2 linked regions of the Homo sapiens genome follow. The protein of the gene in region 1 purifies or fractionates together with the protein of each later gene. This does not show direct contact. Each region holds a gene or a part of one and is shown in the gene's direction. Other genes may lie near its edges.

The links.
Region 2: the proteins of TPD52L3 (region 1) and GABPB1 purify together in Homo sapiens (co-immunoprecipitation; 2 studies listed by BioGRID and IntAct, with this or other methods). This does not show direct contact.

The regions. Positions count from the first base shown.
Region 1 is NC_000009.12:6,326,933-6,331,174, forward strand, and holds the start of TPD52L3 (tumor protein D55), read left to right. Parts: upstream 1-1,442; 5' UTR 1,443-1,663; coding exon 1,664-2,030; coding exon of another isoform or gene 2,031-2,086; exon of another isoform or gene 2,087-3,249; coding exon of another isoform or gene 3,250-3,281; exon of another isoform or gene 3,282-3,988; intron 3,989-4,043; coding exon 4,044-4,087; 3' UTR 4,088-4,242.
Region 2 is NC_000015.10:50,296,199-50,299,698, reverse strand, and holds part of GABPB1 (GA-binding protein subunit beta-1 isoform beta 2), read left to right. Parts: intron 1-3,500.

The DNA.
Region 1 (4,242 bases):
CTGAAAAAGAAATAATTTGACTTCTTATTTTCCTATTTGAATGACAGGGTATGTCTTGATGTGGGATCTGGCAACTAAGTGTCTGAAAAGCTCAGTTTTGCTATGAGAAAAAAAACCATTCTCTGTCAAAAGGAATCAAGGCTTAATAAAAGATTTCATAGTATACACTGAAGGATGAGGAAGCTTATAAAGAAAATAGGCATCAAGGTTGGTGGTTGAAATAATACAGAGAAGTAAAATCAAGTGCAAGTTCAGATTTGGTGATTTGGAGTCTCAACTTTGAAGAGACAATGTGTGTTCTATATTATGTAGCATAATTCAGGGATTTCTTTACCCTTTAGTCTCAGGTTTGAAAGAGGAGTTCTGATTCAGAGTCTGGGAGTGTTCCTGAAACCACTAGTGTTTCTACAGGCAATAGAGGAAAAGTCTACCCTCTGGAACAAATTGGTTTTTAGGGAGTCCTTGCTGCCCTTTTCAGGCCTTTAAACACATAGCCAAATCCTCCATCAGCCTTCATGTTTACAAGAACAATTCTCACTTTTTAACTTAGGGAAACACACCACTCAGGACAAGGCAATAATAAACACTACTAAATTATGTGAAAGGGTTATAGAACATAAACTCAAAGGAGGGCTGAAGTTGGTTTGAATGCACAGCTGGATGCTTCATTGTAGCCACATAGGCATGAGTAGGGCAAACTGCTGAAATTTGCTGAGGATCAAATTATGTTCCACAAGATCATGCTCGCAAGAATTACAAGAATATCCAACAAAATCACTAGAGTCTAAGACTTGCTCAAGAATATTCTCTGAGAATAGGCAGCCATAGAATGAGCTAAGTGAAGCTCGACCACAAGACCTCACTGGATTAACGTCCTGATTTTTCCATTGCATAAGTTTACTCTCGGCAGAATTACGGTTGGGGGGAGGTTGGGGTGGCAGGTTGGCAGGGGAGAGTGGATCCACACTCTGATAGATCCTATTTAACTAGTTTTACTTTACTGTGCAGACTACCTCCCACAACAGGTAACCTTGAATGTAGGCAGACATGCTTCCAGAAATGTGAGTGGAGGTAGGGCGGAATAAAGAAAATGCAACTGCAAAACTGAAAATTCATACTAGCACAATGATGTTTAAATGATTTTCAAGTGTTGGAGCTGGTGTGGTGGAAAACAGTTGCCTGACGCTTTGGTTTGAAGGCCAGGGCTTGTCATTTACCATGTCAGGAGAAATTCCTCTCTTTTCGACAATAATCTCTGCACTGCCTACCTCAGGAGGTCCTCGCAATGCCAAAATGCCGCCAGTGTGGGTTGCGCCTCAGCTGAGCACTGATTCTACAGCCTCGCGGTTTGGGCGGGAAGTCCCACCTCCGCAACCCTGACCAGCCCGGCTCCCCACCCCCACCACCCGGAAGTGAACACCACGAGCTAGCGTGTCTACTTCACAGGCCAGGTCGTCAACTCAACTGTCAAGGTGTCCATTGTACCAGCTGGGCCATGGATCCCTCCCGCCTGAAATCTGACTCCACCTGCCAAGAGTCTGAGCCTGCAGGCCTAGATTTCGACTCTGCTGGCCAAGATTATTTCTCTGCAGCCCAATAATTCGACTCTTTCTACCAAGAATTGGACCTGGACTCTCTTAACGAAGATCTTCTTTCCCAGTCCATGCCACATGCCAGGACAGAGACCTCTGTGGGCACATATGAATCCCACTCGACTTCTGAACTGGAGGATCTGACAGAGCCCGAGCAAAGAGAGCTCAAAACCAAACTCACTAAATTGGAGGCTGAAATTGTAACCCTACGCCACGTACTAGCAGCCAAAGAGAGACGCTGTGGGGAACTCAAGAGGAAGTTAGGCCTCACCGCCTTGGTAGGGCTGAGACAGAATCTGTCCAAGAGCTGGCTTGATGTTCAGGTCTCCAACACCTATGTGAAACAGAAGACATCAGCTGCTCTGTCCACCATGGGCACTCTCATCTGCAGGAAGCTTGGAGGCGTGAAGAAGTCGGCCACATTCAGATCTTTTGAAGGTCTGATGGGGACAATCAAGTCCAAAGTCTCAGGGGGCAAAAGAGCTTGGCCCTGACTGTCTTTCTTCTGCGGAGGGTGGGGTTGATCTGCTCTCAGTTTTGGGGTGTGGGGAAGACCCACTCCAGATTCCGGGGAGTGGGAATGAGCCACTCCCAGTTCTGGAGAGTGAGGATGACCATCTCCACTTTCTGGAACCAGAATGAGCCCCCTTGGTAACCTTGCCTGGTACTAAACCAGTGCAAGGACCCCCTTCCCTTATTACATTTGCAACTCTGCCCAACAAAAACAAGCAAGCAAACCACAATGGTAAAGTGGTTAATTCAGGAAATTGACAGAATCCAGTTTTGAGAAAAGAACACAGATATTTGCTGCTTTTAAGATAGAGAACCCAAAGTTTTGTACCTGGTTATTTTTCACTTAAGTTTGTAGACGAAATGTGCCATTATATTAGCTTTCCTGAGACTGTATCTAATGGGCAAGTCAGTGGCTCCAGAGGGGTCTTAGGCCAAAGCCCAAACTCTCTTTTGGAAAACTAGCTTATTAGAAAGCCAAAGTAGAGTTCTGTTTAAGCTTGAAAGAGGTATGAAGTAATCTGTAGTGTTTTTTTGGTTTGTTTGTTTGTTTTCCCTTCCCCATTTCCTTCCTTCCCTCAGTCTCAAAGTCACCTTGAAAGCTTCACCTGGCCTACAACTTTTATTTTAAAAAGATGATCAAGAAAACTTCATCTTCTCTGAGACTCAGAAAAAGAGGGGAAAATAGTGGTAGTGCACTAATTGTTACATTACTAATATAGCTTTTGTAAAACTCGTTTGTTTTCAAAGGTCTGGACTAAGCAAAACAACAGTGTCAGTTTAGGAAATTATTACTACTTTGAACACAAACTGAAATTGCAACTTTGCCTTGTGCTTTGTTTATAATTTCTTTATATATCAAAATGAGTGTTTTAAAGTTTAACCCTTGAAGCAGCATGTCTTTGCCATAGCAGCACTTCACTTAAAAGGAAGAAATTGCCTCTCTGGCAGCAATTCCTAGTTAGTTACCACCTCCAGCTGAGGGGCTGGAGGAAAACAGGTATAGCCAAATTCAAGAAAGATAAACCCCTGTCTCAAGGAACATTTTAAAAAGAACGTCTGTCCCCTGTGATGCTGGCTGTTATGCCTTTGAATGGACCTAACTATACATCTTTGCTCTTAACTCCAAGTCTGCCCTTCTTTTTAGGAAACCCTAAAGGAGAAGGAAGCAGAATATAACCCTCTGGAGAGCTCAAGACAGTAGGAACCTGGACGGTGCTTGTTTGAATTTTCTGATATCTGATTTTCACACGAATATACTTTTTGTTTGTTTTCCTTTTCCATTTTCAAAATGCCAAGATCTGGGAGCCTCTTTCACTCCTCTAGACACACTGCCTGAGATAGAAGTTTGCATCTTATTGGCTGTGGGCAGAGACTAGGACCCTTATGGGTACATTTCAGTAATCTCTCACTGCCTAAAATGGTAATCCCTCCAGCCTAAGAGGATGATTCTGTTTTGTTGACTCTTGAATGCTCCCCCAACATTCCTTTGGTTTTCCTATAAGCAAAACCAAATACCACTATAAATACAAAAGCATCTGGTAAACTGTAAAGTTACTCATGTATCCCAACCCTCCACAGATTTCTGAAGACAAAGTTTTGCTTGGATTAAAACAAGATGTTTTACTATTTTGCATGTTCGATTTTTAATTTGTTGTGTTTATCAACCAAAATGGCTTTGTATGCTGGAGAACAAGAGGTGAGCCTGCAGCATACAAGAAATGAAAGTAGTCCAACAGGCAAAGGCTTTGACATATTTCAGGAAGGCTTGTGTTAGGGACAATCTCAGACTATTATCATGGGCCAAACCTGAGAGATGTTATATTTTATTTAATAATTTCTACAACAGTAGTAAGTTTCCCCAATAAATTCTCAACTCCGTAAAAGTAGTAAAGTACATATTTATTTTTGCTGATCATTGTTTTCCCATTTCTGGCTTAGGATTGATCTTCAATAAATACACGTTAAATCAAGGAAGGAATTAACATCATATACTTCAGACATCAAATATGGAATCCAAGAGACTATCAACAACATGAACTTGTTCACAAGTTCCTTCTGCTTTTAAACAAAAATATCGTGTTTATTCAAAGCCAATCTGAGACCCTACTCTGTATCAAGAACTGTCCCAGGTTCTGAA
Region 2 (3,500 bases), on another chromosome or scaffold:
GGCTGGGTGCGGTGGCTTGCTCCTGTAAGCCCAGCACTTTGGGAGGCTGAGGCGGGTGGATCACCTGAGGTCAGGAGTTCGAGACCAGCCTGACCAATATGGAGAAATCCCGTCTCTGCTAAAAATACAAAATTAGCCAGGCGTAGTGGCCCATGCCTGTAATCCCAGCTACTCGGGAGGCTGAGGCAGGAGAATGGCTTGAACCCGGGAGGTGGAGGTTGCGGTGAGCCGAGATCACGCCATTGCACTCCAGCCTGGGCAACAAGAGCAAAACTCTGTCTCAAAAAGAAATGAAAGGGTTACCTGTTGTTAAATGATGACAAACAGTATTCATGAACATTTGGTTTATACAAGATTTACCTTTATACTTAACCAAAATACTTCTTGATGTAATTATTATGTCGGTAAAATTTAATTAGGAAATTTTTTAAATTCCAAGAAAATATTTTTCTGTAGCTTAAGCCATTATATTTGGTTCAGTGCTTATAAAAGCAAAGAATAATTTGTCATTCATTTTTTAAATTAGTGTTTTTTCAAAATTTGATCAATAATAACAACATTTCATCAAATGCTTACTCTCTCTGCTAGGCACTGTGATAAATATTTTACTTATAATCTCATTTATTCCTCACCAGAAAGCTTTAAGGTGGATATTACTGTAATATTCTTGACTTGGAGGAGTTGGGGGAATGCTACCTTTTTCTTTTCTCTTTTTCTTTTCTTTTCTCTTTCTTTTTTTTTTTTTTTGACATGGAGTCTCATTTTGTCACACAGGCTGGAGTACAGTGGTACAGTTTTGGCTCACTGCAGCCTCCATCTCCCAGGTTCAAGCAGTTCTCCTGCCTCAGCCTCCCCAGTAGCTGGGATTACAGGCATGCACCACCACACCCAGCTATTTTTTGTATTTTTAGTAGGGACGGGGTTTCACCATGTTGGCCAAGCTGGTCTCGAACTCCTCACCTCAGTGATCTGCCTTCCTCGGCCTCCCAAGGTGCTAGGATTACAGGCATGAGCCACTGTGCCCAGCCTCTTTTTGAAAATAACATTTATCCATTCTTTAGCTTCTGTAGCATTATAATCTAAGTTTGAATCCAAGCCTTTATATTTGGGAGTCTTAAGATTTGTATGAATCACTTTTGGCCATTAGCAGTTATATGCATCATCATACTAACATGCTGCTTTTATAACCTATGCCTGGATCTATTTAATACTTATGTAATTGCAGAAGCATAGCAAAGAAAACTGATTTCATTGGTGGTTTCTATTTGGTTAAACTTGTAAATTTCTTTTCTTTAATTAAATAACTTACCTCTGGCCGGGTGTGGTGGCTCATGCCTATAATTCTAGTACTTTGGGAGGCTAAGGGTGGCAGATCACTTGAGTTCAGAAGTTCAAAACCAGCCTGGACAACGTGGCAAAATCCTGTCTCTACAGAAAAAATTAGCTGGGCATGGTGGCAGGTGCCTGTGTTCACAGCTACTTGGGAGGCTGAGGTGGGAGGATCACTTGAGCCTTGGAAGCAGAGGTAGCAGTGAGCTGTGATCGCGCCACTATACTCCAGCGTGGGTGACAGACCAAGACCTTGTCTCAAAAACAAAAAAACAAAAACGAAAACAAAAACACATATATCTGAAAGTAAAACGGCTTTTCTTCTAAGTCAGCTGGAAATTTTGACATTTAAATGTGTGACTCCATGAAATGGCCACACCAATTTCTCTAACTTCTCTTAACCTTTGAAAATGTTTTGGTCTAGTCTGAGAGAATTAGTAATTTCAGTTAGTTTTTATTGCATGTGACTTAAAATCTTCTATGAGCACAATAATTTTTCATTTCAATATGACATCACAGTGGAATCTTTTTTTGGAGACAGGGTCTCACTCTGTCACCCCAGGCTGGAGTGCAGTGACGTGATCTTGGCTCACTGAAGCCTCCGCCTCCTGGGTTCAAGCGATTCTCCTGCCTCAGCCTCCTGAGTAGCTGGGATTACAGGCACACGCCACCACTCTCAGCCAATTTTTGTATTTTTAGTAGAGATGGGGTTTCGCCATGTTGGCCAGGCTGGCCTCGAACTTCTGATCTGTCCATCTCGGCCTCTCAGAGTGCTGAGGTTACAGGTGTGAGCCACTGCACCCGGCCCATAGTGGAATCTTTTTGAAGATATTTTAAAAGCTTACTTAAAAAGAAGTGCCGGGAGCGCAGGCTCACTCCTGTAATACCAGTACTTTGGGAGGCTGAGGTGGGCAGGTTACGAGGTCAGGAGTTCAAGACCAGCTTGGCCAACATGTTTCTGAAACCCTGTCTCTACTAAAAACACAAAAATTAGCTGGGTGTGGTGGTGTGCCCCTGTAATCCCAGCTACTGGGGAGGCTGAGGCAGGAGAATGGCTTGAACCTGGGAGGCAGAGGTTGCAGTGAGCCGAGATTGTGCCACTGCACCCCAGCCTGGGTGACAGAGCAAGACTCCATCTCAAAAAAAAAAAAGAAGTAATGGGTGGGCTCAGTGGCTCACACCTGTAATCCCAGCACTTTGGGAGGCCGAGGTGGGTGGATCATTTGGGGTCAGGAGTTCAAGACAAGCCTGGCCAACATGGTGAAACTCCATCTCTACTAAAAATACAAACATTAGCCGGATGTGGTGGCGTATGCCTGTAATCCCAGCTACTCGGGAGGCTGAGACAGGAGAATCGCTTGAACCTCAGAGGTGGAGGTTGCAGTGAGCCAAGATTGTGCCACTGTGCTCCAGCCTGGGCAACACAGGGAGACTCTGTCTCAAAAAAAAAAAAAAAAAAAAAAAGAATTAAGTTAAAGTTTAAGTATGTTACCACCAGAGTAAACAACTTAAAGCTCAATTTGCACATACTCAGGCAAAGCTAAATCTACCACAGATTATTTCTCTGATTTCTGGCTGTCCAGTTTCTTTAAAATCTATCGTCAGACTCATCCTGATTCTCGAAATGTTTATATATATCTTTTCAAGGGCTTGTTAGAATCTGGAAAATACATTAGTGGGACCTCCATTTTATATATAATGAAACAGGTTGAATTGGAGGTTGTGGAGGTTGAATAATTTTATCAAAGGGCATATGGCTATTAAGTAGAGAAAGGAGGATTTGGTCAGTCTGACTGATTCCCAAGGTATATGTCTGTGACCTCTATAATGTACCATCTCTCCTATGCAGTTTATTCACATGATCTCTGGGCTCTTTTAGAACGTTTATAATTTGGTTTGAGATATTTGAATTACACAATATTGAATTATTTGTGTAATTTTCATTTTATCTTATTTTAAGCAAGAGCGTCGCTATTACTTTTGGGATGTATCTGTTTCTATAGCTTTTTCTAGTAATAGGTAGTCTGTTGAAATAAGTGTTCTGCTACTTTTTTGACCTTTTTAAATGATGTTGACCAAAATATAGTGTAAGCTCCATCAGTACACTCATTGTTCCTGCTCATATTCTTTTCTTTTACTAGCTAAGTGGTACAATACACATTTTTCCTGGT